Linked DNA regions of Homo sapiens. The protein of the gene in region 2 purifies or fractionates together with the protein of the main gene of each other region. This does not show direct contact. Each region holds a gene or a part of one and is shown on either strand. Other genes may lie near its edges.

Region 1 (8,232 bases), on a different chromosome or scaffold from region 2:
TTTGCTCTTGTTGTCCAGGCTGGAGTGCAATGGCGCAATCTCGGCTCACTGCAACCTCTGCCTCCCAGGTTCAAGCGATTCTCCTGCCTCAGCCTCCTGAGTAGCTGGGATTACAGGCATCTGCCACCACACCCAGCTTAATTTTGTATTTTTAGTAGAGGCAGGGTTTCACCATGTTGGTCAGGCTAGTCTCGAACTCCCGACCTCAGATAATCTGCCCACCTGGGCCTCCCAAAGTGCTGGGATTACAGGCATGAGCCACCGCGCCCGACTTTTATGCCTATTTTATAGATGAGAAACTAAAGCACAGAGAGGTTGAGTAATGTGCCCAAGGTCACACAGCCAATAAAATAGCGGCGCTGGGATTCAAACTCACCCAGTCTGACTCCAAAGTTAACTCAGTGATTTGGGGACACAGTCCACTGGTGATTGTCATTTGGCCCAGATAAGCTAGATTCGGTGAGACCCTCAGAGGTCTCGGGCTACCTTGTGAAGCTGGGCCCTGGATCTAAGCCACATGACGACCCCACAGAGCGCCTGTTACTCACGTGGTTGTGGATGAAAAGTCGCATGTGTTTCTGGGGGTAGTGGAGCCGCAGGAGCCGCTGGAAGAACAGGGACACAAACGGCGTGGGCTGTTCGATGAACACGCCGACCAGGACCGTGGGCAGAGCTTCATCCTGCACCAGGGAGGGCGGCACAAGAGTCCAGCAGTGTCCAGTCACAGCACTGCCACTCCACCCCAGGGTGGCCCAAGGGAGTCAGAGCCAGAATCAGAAGCATGTAGACTTCCCAAGAAAGGTGCCCGGGCCGGGGAACTCCAGTCAGGGGGTACGGGGGGGCAGGGAAGCAGCAGGAGGGTGCCCCGGGGAGAGAGCAGCAGGAGCCCAGGCCTGGAACAAGGACTCGGTTGAGGGCCTGCTGTCAGGAGATCGTGGCTGGCGTGGTGTTCGAGGTGAGTCATAAATGAGGATGAGGTTCATGGGATGGGGAGGGGGCTGCAGGAGAGCCTGAAGGACCAGGCAGAAGAAACCAGAACCTGGACATCTCGGGGGAAGCTAGAGACATGCAATCTGAGAGGGCTTCCAGGAGGAGGCACTTGGGTGGCAACCGGGATAGAACCCCAGGCAGGGAGGTGACCCCTTCACTTTCCACCAAAGACAATGGAGTCTATTCCAGAATCACCCATCTCGCCATCTCAGGGGACTGAGCCCCCCGTGTCCCTCAGGCACAGGCCTGGGCGCAGCCTCACCCCAATGCCCTTGAGGCTGCGCAAGCCTTCGTCACACACGGTGCAGCCTGTTTCGAAGGTCCAGAAGCGCGGGATGTAGTTGCCCAGGTAGTTCAACTGCAGCTGTCGGGGAGACGTGGGGTCACAGAGAAGCCAGCCAGCCCCACCTGCCATAGCCCTGACTCACATCTCCCTGGGCCCCCAGTGGGTCAGCACCATCCAGCCCCCTCCCACTCCCTAAGAGGGTCTTGGAGATAATGCTCCATCCCCAGGAGATCACCAAGCCGCTCTGAGAGAGGGCAGGGGAGGGCTTGGCACTCTAGTGCTTCTCCCGAGAGCTTGTAAAATGCAGATTCCTGGGTCCCACCCCGCTCAGAGATTCCATCTGAACAGATCCTGGGTGAAATCAGCAAATTTGCATTTTAAACACATCACATCCTCCTTCCTCTCCCTCATTCCAGCGGTGAAGGACCACACTCAAATATGCTATGAGCTATGAGCCAGTTCCCCAGGGACCAGTGAGGTCCATTCTGTCCCTGGCCGCATCTGCACCCAGTCCCTTCTGTCACCATGAATGCAGGACATCCGTCCTGCTTATGACTATGTCTTACTGTCTGGTGCAAACATGAAATAAAGGTTTACTGAGTGAATAAGTGACTCTGCCCTGGGGTGACAGTGCAGATGGCTCTGGTAGCCCAGCCTAGGCCTGGAAGGGGATGGCAGCCTCCTACGTGTCCTGTGACCAGCAAGAACAGACAGAGTACCACTGACCACCACAGCAGGAAAAGAAGGCATCACGCTGAGCTCAGATGTGAGGACAGAGGCAGTGAGTTCATAGCAGGCCCCAGGAAGGTGGCCCTGGCCCCAGGGAGACACTGTGGGGTCACAGTGAGAATGAAATTAGGGCTCTGGCCCCCTCCCACACTCCCCAGGGGCTGGGGACCCCCTACCTTGGTTGGCCCGTTGCCATGGATCAGGACCGGGAGGGTGTCATAGGCCAGGTTCCTCGCTCTCACATGGCCCATTTCAAACTTGAGCACGACCTCATCTGGGGGTCAGAAAGCACAGTCCCACCCAGCATCAGACCCAGAGGTCAGGCTCAGGGTCCAACCAGCTGGGCTCAAATCCCAGCTGTGCAGTGAGTAGATTATGTCCTCGGGCAAGTCACTTCTCTCTAAGCCTCAGTTTCCTCATCTATAAAATAGGAATAATCCCTTCTTCATGGGGTGAGGGGGAGGATTTGTGTTGAACAAGCGTGGGGCACCAAGCCTGGCCCATCATGAGCACAGAATCCACGGCAACCCCTGTACTTGTTGTGGTTACTTACAGTCAGAAGCAGGGGCTGGGAGAAGAACGAAGACCTGGAACATCCCAGCTCCAGGCACCTCAGAGAAGCCCCAAGAGAAAGGGTCTGGGACGCGCCTTCTCTGAGTAGGCAGAGCAGCACTGAGAAAATGCCAGAGCCACATGCAGGGGAGGCCTGGGCATGATCAGGACAGATCTTGTCCCAGTGGAGGGAGCCCCTGCAGCAGGGTTCCAATACTCATGTTTTTTGTGTGTGTTTTTGTTTTTTGTTTTTTAGAAATGGAGTCTCATTCTATTGCCCAGTGTGGAGTGTAGTGGCATGATCTCGGCTCACTGCAACCTCCGCCTCCCAGGTTCAAGTGATTTTCCTGCCTCAGCCTCCTGAGTAGCTGGGATTACAGGCACATGCCACCACACCCAGCTAATTTTTGTATTTTTAGTAGAGACGGGGTTTCACCATGTTGGTCAGGCTGGTCTTGAACTCATGACCTCTGGTGATCCACCCGCCTTGGCCTCCCAAAGTGCTGGGATTACAGTGCCTGGCCCCCAATACCCATGTTTGACCCTATTAGTCTGCACATAGGAAAATGGGTATTTCAGCTGGGCACGCTGGCGCACACCTGTAATCCCAGCACTTTGGGAGGCCAAGGTGGGAGGATCACTTGAGCCCAGGAGTTTGAGACAAGCCTGCGCAACATAGTGAGACCCTGTCTCTATTTTAAAAATTAAAATAGGGCTGGGCACGATGGCTCACGTCTGTAATCTCAGCACTTTGGGAGGCCAAGGCAGGTGGATCACCTGAGGTCAGGAGTTCGAGACCAGCCTGGCCAACATGGTGAAACCCCATCTCTACTAAAAAAATACAAAAATTAGCCGGGCATGGTGGTGTGCGCCTGTAATCCCAGCTACTTGGGAGGCTGAGGCAGGAGAATCACTTGAACCTGGGAGGCGGAGGTTGCAGTGAGTCGAGAATTCGCCACTGCATTCCAGCCTGGGCGATGGAGCAAGACTCCATCTTAAAAAAGAAGAAAAAAAAAGGAAAACAGATAGCTCCTGACCTGCGTGGATCTGAACTCAGTGCTTCTTAACCCCCAGAAACCACAGGCAAAGGGCATTTTCTGCGTTTCTCTGGGAGCAGAGCCGTAGCTTTCATCAGATTCTCAAAAGGGCCCATTTATCCACAAAATCAGCAATCAGTGGATCCGGTTCACTTCCCTTTTGTAAAGATAAGAAAACTGAGTCCCCTGTGGGGAGGAGGTGTGACTTGCCTGAGGTCACTCAGGAAGACAGGAAGACCTGCGGCAAAGCAATGTCATCACCAGCCACAGACATGAGGCCAGGCCCAGGGATGTTTGCGGCATCAAGGGTCAAGTAGCCTTTTGCTTCCCAAGCTGCCTGTCCCACCAGCTGAGTTCCTGCCCCTAGCCCAGGACTCCTTCACCTGGAAGGTGGGAGGGCCGGGAAAGTGGGGAAAGAGGGCCCACCTGTAAGGACCTGGTATGCAGGGCAGGGGGTCCAGCACCTGCTGTGCGCATCCCCCAACTCCTCCCAGGCTGAATGCTCACTTGTCCCCCGCCCCCAAGAGAGACATGGCTCTGCGCCAGGATATCCAAGTGGCCCCTGGGGACCTGGGGATGAGGCCAGTGACCTCTCAGCACAATGGCCAGAAAGAAGCAGCCCATTTCTCCTCCCTGGGCTCGGGCCCTGCCTGGAATTCTTCCTATCACCCCTCTGAGGATCCACCCCTCCCCGTGGGGGCTGCTCACCCAAGGCTCCATCCAGGTTCTGGAAGATACGGCAGCGGTGGTCCAGGGTGATATTGATCTGCTCCTGCAGGAAAGAAGGTACCAGACTGCAGCAGGGACAGGCCCTGGGGGAGGCTGGGGCTACATCTCACCCAGTGTGGGGAATCTGTCCCCAAGTTCAGCCCTCATTCCCCACACCGACTCTGCCACGTCACATCAGGGCAGCTAGGTGCCCAGAGAAGGCCAGCAGCCAAGCTCCTGGGGTCTACAGTCTAGTGGCTCTACTCACAGAAAACCAGGGACTCTGAACTGGAAGGAATCTAAGAATGCAGCCGGCTCACCTACAACAATGACGGCCGTTAAGAGTAACCAGCACCTGCCAAGCACTCCACTACACGCACATAGCTACTCCAAATATTCTTTTTTTTGAGAAAGAGTTTCGCTCTTGTCACCCAGGCTGGAGTGCAATGGCACGACCTCGACTCACTGCAACCTCCGCCTCCTGGGTTCAAGCGATTCTCCTGCCTCAGACTCCTGAGTAGCTGGGACTACGGGCATGTGCCACCATACCCAGCTAATTTTTTTTTTTTTTTTTTTTTTTTTTGCTAGAGATGGGATTTCACCACATTGAGCAGGCTGGTCTCGAACTCCTGACCTCAGGTGATCCGCCCCCGCCCCCCGCCTCCCAAAGTGCTGGGATGACAGGTGTGAGCCACCGCACCTGGCCGCTACTCCAAATATTCTACACGAGTCGGGTGCGGTGGCTCACTCCTGTCATTCCAGCACTTTGGGAGGCTGAGGCAGAAGGATCACTTGAGCCCAGGAGTTTGAGACCAGCTTGGGCAACATAGCAAAACTTCATCTCTATAAAAAAATCTTAAAATTAGCCAGACATGGTGACGCAGGCCTATAGTCCCAGCTACTCAGGAGGCTGAGGTGGGAGGATCGCTTGAGTCCGGGAGGCTGAGGCTGCAGTGAGCTATGTTTCTGCCACTGCGCATCAGCCTGGGTGACAGTGAGACCCTGTCTCAAATAAATAAATAAACTATTCTACATATATTAATCAATTTAATCCTGACAACATCTCTGTGAGAAAGTATTATCATTATTGCTTTTTTTTTTGAGATGGAGTCTGGCTCTTGTCACCCAGGCTGCAGTGCAATGGCACAATCTCGGCTCACTGCAACCTCCGCCTCCCAGGTCCAAGCAATTCTCCTGCCTCAGCCTCCTGAGTAGCTGGGATTACAGGCACCCACCACCACGCACGGCTAATCTTTATATTTTTAGTAGAGACAGGGTTTCATCATGTTGGCCAGGCTGGTCTCAAACTCCTGACCTCAGGTGATCCACCCGCTTTGGCCTCCAAAGTGCTGGGATTACAGGCATGAGCCACTGGGTCTGGCCCATTATTGCATTTCATAACGGAAAAAACAAGGGACAGAGAAGTTGCCCAATGTCACACAGCTAGTAAATGGTGAGCTGGGATTGGAACCCAGGCAGCCTGGCCCTGAAGTCCTTATTCTGAACCAATGAACAATGCTGCCTCTTTAAGACCCGACAGCCGGGCACGGTGGCTCACGACTGTAATCCCAGCACTTTGAGAGGCCGAGGCGGGTAAATCACCTGAGGACAGGAGTTCGAGACCAGCCTGGCGAACGTAGTGAAACCCTGTCTCTACTAAAAATACAAAAATCAGCCAAACGTGGTGGTGCACGCCTGTAGTCCCCGCTACTCGAGACGCTGAGGCTCGAGAATCGCTTGAACCAGGGAGGTAGAGGCTGTAGTGAGCCGAGATCGCACCACTGTACTCTAGCCTGGGCAATACAGTGAGACTCCATCCCAAAAATAAAAAAATAGGATTAGTGTCCTTATCAATGAGGCCCCAGTGAGCTCCCTACCCCCTTCCACCATCTGAGGACACAGAGAGAAGTCAGCTGTGTCTGTACCAGTTAGAGGGCTCTGACCAGAACCCAACTGTGATCTCACCCTTCCGGCCTCCAGAACCATGAGAAATCCACATCCGTTGTTTGGGAGCCACCCAGCCTATGGCAGTTTGTCAGAGCAGCCTGCATAGACTAAGACACCAACCCAGGGGTTCAGGCCTGAGAGGAGCTGTTCCCGTGCAGCCTGGCCGGTGGATCCCCAGCCCCCTCTCCTTGGCCCGCCCACTGCCTCTTACCCTCTTCTCCGGGTCCAAGAAGATCTTGGTGTAAAACAGCTGATCGCTGTCGCTGTCCTGGCCCTCCCACTCGGCCACCAGTTTGCTGAGGTTGGGGGCATAACCGATGAAGCCTGAAGGTTGGTGGGTGGGGACACCAAGACGGACCCTTAGCTTCCAGCCTCTAAGTCAGGGGCCTCCTCCCACCCTTCCCTCTTATCCACCTCCACTCATATGCCCACAAACCCTGTCACCTCTCAGAAGTCCTCCTGAATTGACAGGAGGTGGGGCTGCAGGTTGGAAATGGGGCTGCCAGTGAATGTCACTTATTAATGAGTTCCTAATGACCCCAAGAATAAGACCAATGGTGCCCACTAAGCTGTACTGTTCAGTGCTGGGCACCATATAGGTGGTGAAGAAACGGATTGTACGAGGAGCCCCTGGAGAGCAGGGCTGGGAGGATACAGGCCTGGTGTCCCTTTTTACAGTTATCTGGGAAACCTGGCCCAGAGAAGGGAAAGGCTGGGCCAAGCTCACAGAGTGCCTTGGGGGCTGAGACCTGGCATAGTGGGGAAGCCCACATGGGCCCCTGGCTAGAGTACAGACTGGTGACAAGCAACCACAAGAGCAATGGGACATCCCTACTCCTGGGCCTGGGCCAGGGCAAGGCCATCTGGACTGTGCTTACTCTGGACCAGTGGAAAAAAGTGTCTGTTGAGGGCAGATGGCAGATCCCCATCTAAGGTTGAAAAGAGGCCTGTGGATTTTATTCTCCGTGCAGTGGAAAGTCATTAAGTGATGTGTGTGAATTTGCATCTTTATTTATTTATTTATTTTTAAGACAATGTCTCGCTCTGTCGCCCAGGCTGGAGTGCAGTGGCACGATCTCGGCTCACTGCAAGCTCCGCCTCCCGGGTTCATGCCATTCTCCTGCCTCAGCCTCCCGAGTAGCTGGGACTACAGGCGCCTGCCACCACACCTGGCTAATTTTTTGTATTTTTAGTGGAGACGGGGTTTCATCGTGTTAGCCAGGATGGTCTCGATCTCCTGACCTCGTGATCCGCCCACCTCGGCCTCCCAAAGTGCTGAGATTACAGGCATGAGCCACCAATATATATATTATATATATTATATAAATTATTATATATAATATATATAATATATTTTACATTATAAAAAAATATAGTATTATTTTTTATTTAAAAAAATTATTTATTTTTTTGAGTGCAGTGGCACCATCTCAGCTCACTGCAACCTCTACCTCCTGGGTTCAAGAGATTCTCCTGCCTCAGCTTCCCAAGTAGCTGGGATTACAGGCGTGTACCACCACGCCCGGCTACCTTTTATATTTTTAGTAGAGATGGGGTTTCGCCATGTTGGCCAGGCTGGTCTTGAACTCCTGGCCTCAAGTGATCCTCCCACCTCGGCTTCCCAAAGTGCTGACATTACAGGCGTGAGCCACCGCGCCTGGCCTTGGATTTGCATCGTTTAAAGACACCTCTGGCTGCTGGATGGAGAATGGCCTGGAAGGGCATGAGGGTAGGGAATGGCAGAGCAGTAAGGAGGCTCCTACCAACGGCCAGGAGCCCAGTGAGAATGGTGGCAGTGAACTGTGGGCCAGAGAGAGCAGATTCCAGAGATCTTTAGGAAGTAGGAGGCAGGTGGCCAGGTGTGGTGACTCATGCCTATAATCCCAGCACTTTGGGAGGCCGAGGCAGGTGGATCACTTAAGGCCAGGAGTTCGAGACCCACCTGGCCAACATGGCGATACCCCATCTCTACTAAATATACAA
Region 2 (8,232 bases):
ACCTGCCTTGGCCTCCCAAAGTGTTGGGATTACAGGCCTAAGCCACCATGCCTGGTCAAATCCAGGCTTTTCTGACTCCCTCTTAGTCAAGATGCCCCCAGGCCCACGTAAGACAAGACCCCTCATCAGCTCGCTGGGCCCCATCCAGCTGCCTGGTCCCCAGCTCTCACTGCGAACCTTCAGCCTCTCATTCTCCAGCTTGAATGCGGAATACTCAGCAGTCTGACGGTGTAGTCTCTCCACCAGGCTATCCCGGTCTTCCCGCATCTTCTCCTCCAGGGTTTGTTGTTGGTTTACAAGATCTGTTACCCGGCTGGAAGATCACAAAGTGAAAGCAGACAGAGAGAATCAATTACACAGGTTTGTTTGTGTGTGTGTGTGTGTGTGTGTGTGTGTGTTTTGTTTGTTTGTTTTTTTAGACGGAGTCTCGCTCTGTCACCTAGGCTGGAGTGCAGTGGCGCGATCTTGGCTCACTGCAAGCTCCGCCTCCCGTGTTCATGCCATTCTCCTGCCTCAGCCTCCCGAGTAGCTGGGACTACAGGCGCCCACCGCCACGCCCGGCTAAGTTCTTGTATTTTTAGTAGAGACGGGGTTTCACCGTGTTAGCCAGGATGGTCTCGATCTCCTGACCTCGTGATCTGCCCGCCTCGGCCTCCCAAAATGCTGGGATTACAGGTGTGAGCCACCGCACCCGGCCAATTACACAGGTTCTAAAGAACCCAGGTCTTTGTGTGGTGTGGGACCCAGCGTTCTCATCACTCAATATACTGCCTGCCTGCTCCCCAATCTCCACACTGAGAAGCAACTCTGCTGCCCTGCCTTGGCATTGCTGCTGTGGTACTCCCATGCCTGTCCCACCTCTGAACGACGTCCGTTAAGATGTGTCTCCCATACCTCCCCCTCCAAGAAACCATCTACAATTCAACAATAAGCAATGACTTATTAAGAGAAGTGTGGGCTGGGTGTGGCAGCTCACACCTGTAATCCCAGTGCTTTGGGAGGCCAAGGTGGGAGGATTGCTTGAGCCCAGCAGTTGAAGGTTGCAGTGAGCTATGCTGGTGCCACTGCACTATAGCCTGGGTGAAGGAGCAAGACCTTGTCTCCATTAAGAAAAAAAAGAGAGAGAGAGAGAGAGGGATGTGTACCCATCTTGATCCTCTCATAAGGCCAAGATACCCTTTGAAGGCAAGGACCAGAGACATGATCCCTTCCCAACTCCCTATGACACCTCCTGGAATCTCTCTGCCTATCAGGTCTTGGTGTTAGGACAGACGCTTCTGGAATCCCTTCTTGGACTCCCAGGCTGGTGGTCAGGGATTATCACCCAGGCATTCCTCTCCAGCAGGGCCCTGAGCACCCTGGGCTTTTGTACCCCCAGCAGGGGGCTGGTGCCATGATTGCTCATTCACATATGAACACTCACCTAACACAGGCAGGAACGGCAATGAGTGTGGTGTGGGAAAAAGGCACAAATAGAAAGACGCCAACTTAGAAGCCAGCTGCCTGCCCCACCCCCAGTCCCTTCTGCTCCCTGCTGCTGCCTCAGTCACTCAGCAAGGCCATCATCAGTCAAAGAGCAGAGACTGTGGCCTCAAGAGGAGCCCTGGGGCTCACAGGTGCTTACTCCTCTATCTTGACCACAGACCCATCAAAAACCCTTTGCACAATATGTGCTCTCAGTATTGACCAATTACAGTCCACCACTGAACACTGACTAGGCCCAAGCAAACATATCAGTTTGCTGGCAACTCCAGTTTACCTGGCAAACTCCTACTCACACTTAAAAACCCAGTTCAGACTTCAAGACATCTTGTCCCTGACCCCTCCCCTGTACCATGTATGCTTCTGTCTTAGGTATCTATGTTCTCCCACTAGACAGAGAACTCCCTAAGGACAGCAGCTGGCATAGAGCCTGGCACATAGTGAGTTCTCAGAACATGTTTGCTAAGTTGAGTTGAATACAGTAAGAGACTTTCCTGACCTGGGAGATTAAATGAGCTCCCCCATGACCTATCCTTAGTCCAGGGAGTCCATGCCTCTTGTAGCCCTATCTCCTCTACAGAGTAGAGGGCAGGGAATGCATTTGTCTTCTTACTGCTGTAACCCTGGTGGCCAGCACACAGCAGCTTGGTATATGGTAGATGCTCAATATATGTTTTTCCAATAAATGAAGGAAAAAAGGAGAATGATGGAATGGTCACTATTCACAGTTCGCCAGTGGCAAGAAAGGTGTCAGCTCAGTCACTTGCAAATTGAGGCCACTTTTGCCCCCTACTCCCATGCCATACCACTGACCTACTGACTGGCAGGCACTGGCAAACAGCTGCTGTCCCTGGACAGACAACAGAGAGAAGACACTCGGGTCACCATCTGCCCCATTCCCCAATAGGAATGAGGACACCACGGTGCCCATTTCAAATGCTGTGTAGACTGAGGACAGGATCAGGCCCAGGTGATGAAGTCAGACCCACACCTCTGACCAGAAAGACCCGGCCCCTAGCCAGTGCCTGACAGTAGGGTAGGACCCCAGGACTAGGGCCAGAGCTTGCACCCCAGCTCCAACCAGAAAGCCCAGCTCAGGGCTACCCACATCACAGCCCAGTGCAGCCCCCAACCCGGAGAGTACAAACAGCAGCCACGTGGCCTTCCCTGAGCCACTAGGCCCCTCCCACCTGCACACCCAAGTCCCTCAACAGCGCCACATTCCCTCTCCTACTCTAAGACGTACTCATTCAGGACAATAATTTCCAGCTCAAGGTCTCCCTTTTCTTTTACAACTTGGTTGTAGCGGCTCCTCCAGGATTCCAGAGTGGATAAAGCTTCAGCGACATAAAGATCCTGGGAACACGGGACAAAAGGGCCTGTTAGCCTAGTGTCAGTGGTGAGGCTGCCAGGAGCTGGGAGCGGGCTCATCCTAGGTGGTTTCTCACCCTGGTAACCTAAACCTCATTCTGGAATTCACCTTTCTAGAGGGCGCTGGAAGCAACAGTGGGAGCCCAGCTAGTGCTCCCAGATTTCTAGCAATCAAATGCATCCTGTTTGTAAATCCTTCCTTAACCATTATTCTCACCCACAAAGCTGATGTGGCTGAACTCTCCTACAAAGCCTCCAATCATCTCCAGCCACCCATCCCTCCAGCTTTTACCCATTTGATCCCCTTAACTCCCTCTCCCTCCTCCCCAGCCATCTATCCTTTCCACCACTACCATCCCTCATCCACCCACCCCTCCCCGCTACCCATCTGGCTGACCACCCCTCTGCCATCACCCAGCCCTCCTCAGGGCAGGTGAGGAGCTGGGCACCGCGGGCCTGCGACCTTGTCAGCGAGTTGCACGTGTAGCTGCTCAGCATACTCCTCGCTCTTCTCGGCTCGCTCCTTCTGGGCTCGGATGGCCTTCTTCAAGCTCTCTTTGTCTCGGTCTCCCTTCTGCTTCAACTCCTTCAGCTGCTCCATGATGGCCTCCACTTCTGCCTTATGCTGATTCCCGCTGCGCTCCAGATTCTGGAAGGGGGAAGGGGTGAGAAAGAGAGGGAGAAGAGAGACAAGGAGGTTGTGGGAAGGCAAAGCAGAGGGTGAAGGAGAAAGGGAGGAAAAGGCAAGAGCAAAGAGGAAACGAGGAAGACAGAAAAAAGTGCTTAGCTGTGTGAGAGGCTCCCCTAACTCGGACCAGAGACACAGTCCCTCCCAGCTCCCCACGACACCTCCCTGGATCTCTCAGCCCATGGGGTCTTGATATTAGGTCAGAACTGCTCTGGAATCCTTCCCTGAACTCCCAGCCTTGTGGTCAGAGATAGTTCCTTGGTCACTCAGCAGAGTATGACCTCAGAGGACCCCTGGGCTACAAAGAGACCATCCCTTTCCCTTGGGTAATGAGGAGAACTGAGGGCCTAGGGGATTAAGTGATAGGCCTGGGGGGCATGGCACGCAACCCCGTCACTGTTGGGAAGGATGCCCAACACCTCCTGGGTCTCTGTCCATTGCTCTTGCCACTGTCCTGGAATGTCTCTGAGGCCTGAGTATTTTGTCATCAGCTGCCTCAGAAACCTTTGGAGGCACACTTCCTGAGTGTGATATCTGGGCCAGGCCGCTACCATCAAATTGGCAGGCCCTTGCCTCCTCTTTCCCCACTTGTGGGGCCAATAGGTACCTTAATCTGCATGCACAGGCGACTGTTCTCAGCCTCTTTGGACCGAAGCTGTGCCTGCAAATGCCCACGCATGGACTCCATGGATTTAGAAAGCTCAGAGGCTGTCTTTGCTTGAGCCTGTGGAGAGACGGAAAAAGTGATGGAGGCACAATTTTTTGTTTGTTTTTTTCATACGGAGTCTTGCTCCGTTTCCCAGGCTGGAGTGCAGTGGCGCAATCTCAGCTCACTGCAACCTCCACCTCTTGGGCTCCAGCGATTCTCCCGCCTCAGCCTCCTGAGTAGCTGGGGTTACAGTCACGTGCCATCAAAACCGGCTAGTTTTTTGTATTTTTAGTAGAGACAGGGTTTCACCATGTTGGCCAGACTGGTCTCGATCTCCTGACCTCAAGTGATCCACCTGCCTCGGCCTCCCAAAGTGCTGGGATTACAGGCGTGAGCCACCGCGCATGGTCAATAATTTTTTTTTTTTTTTTTGAGACAGGGTATCACTGTTGCCAAGGCTGGAGTGCAGTGGCGTGACCATGACTCATTGCAGCCTCAGTCTCCCAGGCTCAAGTGATCCTCCCATCTCAGCATCCAGAGTAGCTGGAACTACAGGTGCATGCCACCACACCTGGCTGATTTTTTAATTTTAATTTTAATTTTGTAGAGATGGGGTCTCCCTGTGTTGCCCAGGACAGTCTCAAACTCCTGGCCTCAATGAGTCCTCCTGCATTGGCCTCCCAAAGTGCTAGGGAGTGGCCTAGGCTGGTCTCGAAAAAGTGCCAGACATGAGCTACTGCACCCGGCCCAAAGACAGGATTTGAACCCAGCTCTCTGCATATCCATTATATTCTACTGGCTCATAAAAATGCACAACTGCGGCTGGGCGCAGTGGCTCATGCCTGTAATCCAGCACTTTGGGAGGCCGAGGCAGGCAGATCACGAGGTCAAGAGATCAAGACCATCCTGGCCAACATGGTGAAACCCCGTCTCTACTAAAAATACAAAAATTAGCTGGGCGTGGTGGCGCACGCCTGTAGTCCCAGCTACTCGGGAGGCTGAGGCAGGAGAATCACTCAAATCCGGGAGGCAGAGGTTGCAGCGAGCTGAGATCGCGCCATTGCACTCCAGCCTGGCGACAGAGCGAGACTCCGTCTAAAAAAAAAAAAAAAAAAAGCACACTACCTTCTCACATTGTATTTCCTGAAGGAGCTCTTCCACCTCCTTGTCCTTGTCTTGCAGCAGTAACAGCAGGCGCTGGGAGAGAACACAGGCTGTCAGGTGCCCCTGGGAAGGGCAAAGAGGCCCGGCCCAGGGAGGACAGAGATTTGTGAGTACCTGGCCACTGGGGCCCAAGGTCCTACATACATTGGCCCATGTCAGAGATTCTGGTAGGAAGCACCTAACATATGCATTAAAACATTTTTTTAAAACAATGAACATGTATTTATTTTGCAATTTAAGAACAGCAATGTTAACTGTAGAAAACATTGAGAACACACCAAAAAAATCCTCCAAAGAAACCCCGTAACCCCCCATGCAGAGATAACCAGTTAATGCACATTGAAACTCATATGCTCAGCACCGTTAAAAAAAAAAAGTCATATGCCTACTTCGTTCCATAGCCTAAAAGCTCATGTTTACCATAATGTGATTAAATCTTCTGTGTCTTTTGAAAGAGCTGCTTGACGGTTCAAGTTACTGATGTATATCATAACTTAACAAGGGTTCTTGAGCTGGGAATGCACATTTAGGCATTATCGCCGAGCTTGCTGCATCTCCACTCCTTCCTCAACTAAGCATCAGAGGCCACAGACCACACCTTGGGAAACTGGGCCTCCGTCTCCCTCCCCTCTCTTGGAGACTTACAAAAGCATTAATACAGCAGACACTCCAAAAAAGTCTTGAAAGAAGCTGTTGAACTTCATGTTCAGGCCAGCCTATGGTTTCCCAAATTTAACTGGCTATGGAACCTCCCCTTCGGTTTCTTGCACTCATTAACATCTTGAGGAACTTAGGGTTCCATGAACAGACTTTGGAACATGCTGCTTTGGGAGAGATTCCTAGAATTAGGATTACTGAGTCCAAAGGTGTGTACTTTTTGATGGCTTTGAATCCATAATACTAATTTGATGGAAATCCAGCTTTAACAGACACGGATGATTTACAAATCCAACATCATCATTACCCTCTCTATGTTGGTGTCCAGCTTTGTGGCTCAAGGTCTCAAGTAACTAACTAGACAAGCCTATCAGAACAAGCGTGACAGGAGGACATCAGCCCATTTTACAGATCGTGAAACTAAGACCTAGCGAAATGCTCCAGCCCTCCTGCCTTGATCCAAGCACCTCTACACTTTGTAGTGGAACGACGCTCTTGCCACCTGTACCCACTAGAGTAGACAAGGGCAGCCTTAGTTACCGCTTTCTCTGAGTCGGCCTCCGCCAGCCGTTTCAGCAGTGCTCCTTGTTGCTCCATTAGTCTTTCAGAATCCTTCAAAGAAAGGCAAAGGAAAAAGTCAAGTCATTAAGCAATAAACCCAGATGTCTACATTTTATTGATTCTTTACCTTTTCCAAAAATTGTATTTTTTTTTTTTTTTAGAGTCTTACTCTGTTGCCCAGGCTGGAGTGCAGTGGTGCAATCATGGCTCACTGCAGCCTGGTCCTTCTGGGCTCAAGCCATCCTCCCATCTCAGCCTCCAAAGTAGCTGGAACAACAAGCATGCACTACCATGCCCAACTTTTTAAACATTATTATTATTTGTAGAGTTGGAGGGTCTCCCTGTTTGCCCAGGCTGGTCTTGAACTCCTGGGTTCAAACAATCTGCCTGCTTTGGCCTCCCCAAGTGCTGGGATTACAGGTGTGAGCCACCACACCTGGCCCAAAAAACTGTAGTTCTAATTTGAAAAGTAATGTGAATATATTCTCACTATAAAATAGTGAATGCTAATAAAGCTACAGTTCCTCCTGTACCCACCTCCAAACCCTACCCTACTGCTATTAGTTTGAGGAGTATCCTTCCCATCCTTTTTCTCTACATCTACAGAGAAATACTGTATTTCTCTGTATTGAAAATACTGTACAGAATACTGTATTGAAATACTGTTTCTCTGTAATGAAACAGCATTTTGCTGCATCAAGAGAAATACTGTTTGTCTCTGGGGGAAGGGGAAAGGGATTCATGTGTAACTTTAGGAAAATAATATCATATTGTATTTATGTGTTAATTTTTTTTAATTTTTTTTATTTTTTAGAGAGGAAGTCTCGCTCTTGTCCCCCAGGCTGGAGTGCGATGGCACGATCTCGGCTCACTGCAACCTCTGCCTCCCAGGTTCAAGCGATTCTCCTGCCTCAGCCTCCCGAGTAGCTGGGATTACAGATAACTGCCACCACGCCCGGCTAATTTTTGTATTTTTAGCAGAGACAGGGTTTCACCATGTTAGCCAGGCTGGTCTCAAACTCCTGACCTCAGGTGATCTGCCCGCCTTGGCCTCCCAAAGTGCTGGGATTACAGGCGTGAGCCACCATGCCCAGCTGTTACTTGATTTTTAAAAACAGCTTTATTGAGATATAAATTTGAACACCATTTAAAGTGTACAGCATGGTGACTATAATTAATGATGTATTATATACTTGAAATCTGCTAGGAGATCTTAAGTGTTGTCACCACACACACACAAAAAGGTAACCATGTGACGTGATGGATGTGTTAATCAGCTTGATTGAGGTGGTCACTTTACAATGTATATGGGTATCAAATCATCACGATGAACATCTTAAAATGTATACTACTTCTGTTTGTCAAATATACCTCAATAAAGCTAGAAGAAAAAATAAAGTATACAATTAAATGGCTTTGGTATATTCCATTATTAACTTTTAAAAATTGTGGTAAAATATATGTAACATAAAACTTGTCATTTTAACCTTTTTATTTCTTTTAGAGACACAGTCTAGCTCTGTCACCCAAGCTGGAGTGCATGTTGTAATCATGGATCATAGCTCACTGCAACCTTGATATCCTGGACTCAAGTGATCCTCCCACCTCAGCCTCCTCAGTAGCTGGGACCACAGGTGTGTGCCACCACACCTGGCTAACC

The links.
Region 1: the proteins of ODF2 (region 2) and PLOD1 purify together in Homo sapiens (affinity purification with mass spectrometry; 2 studies listed by BioGRID and IntAct, with this or other methods). This does not show direct contact.

Annotation. Positions count from the first base shown.
Region 1 is NC_000001.11:11,950,964-11,959,195, reverse strand, and holds part of PLOD1 (procollagen-lysine,2-oxoglutarate 5-dioxygenase 1 isoform 2 precursor), read right to left. Parts: intron 6,574-8,232; coding exon 6,461-6,573; intron 4,367-6,460; coding exon 4,303-4,366; intron 2,280-4,302; coding exon 2,182-2,279; intron 1,355-2,181; coding exon 1,253-1,354; intron 681-1,252; coding exon 549-680; intron 1-548. UniProt on the Homo sapiens protein: Part of a complex composed of PLOD1, P3H3 and P3H4 that catalyzes hydroxylation of lysine residues in collagen alpha chains and is required for normal assembly and cross-linkling of collagen fibrils.
Region 2 is NC_000009.12:128,479,971-128,488,202, reverse strand, and holds part of ODF2 (outer dense fiber protein 2), read right to left. Parts: intron 7,991-8,232; exon of another isoform or gene 7,387-7,990; intron 6,624-7,386; coding exon 6,552-6,623; intron 5,388-6,551; coding exon 5,316-5,387; intron 4,266-5,315; coding exon 4,149-4,265; intron 3,503-4,148; coding exon 3,317-3,502; intron 2,839-3,316; coding exon 2,729-2,838; intron 361-2,728; exon of another isoform or gene 314-360; coding exon 178-313; exon of another isoform or gene 1-177. UniProt on the Homo sapiens protein: Seems to be a major component of sperm tail outer dense fibers (ODF).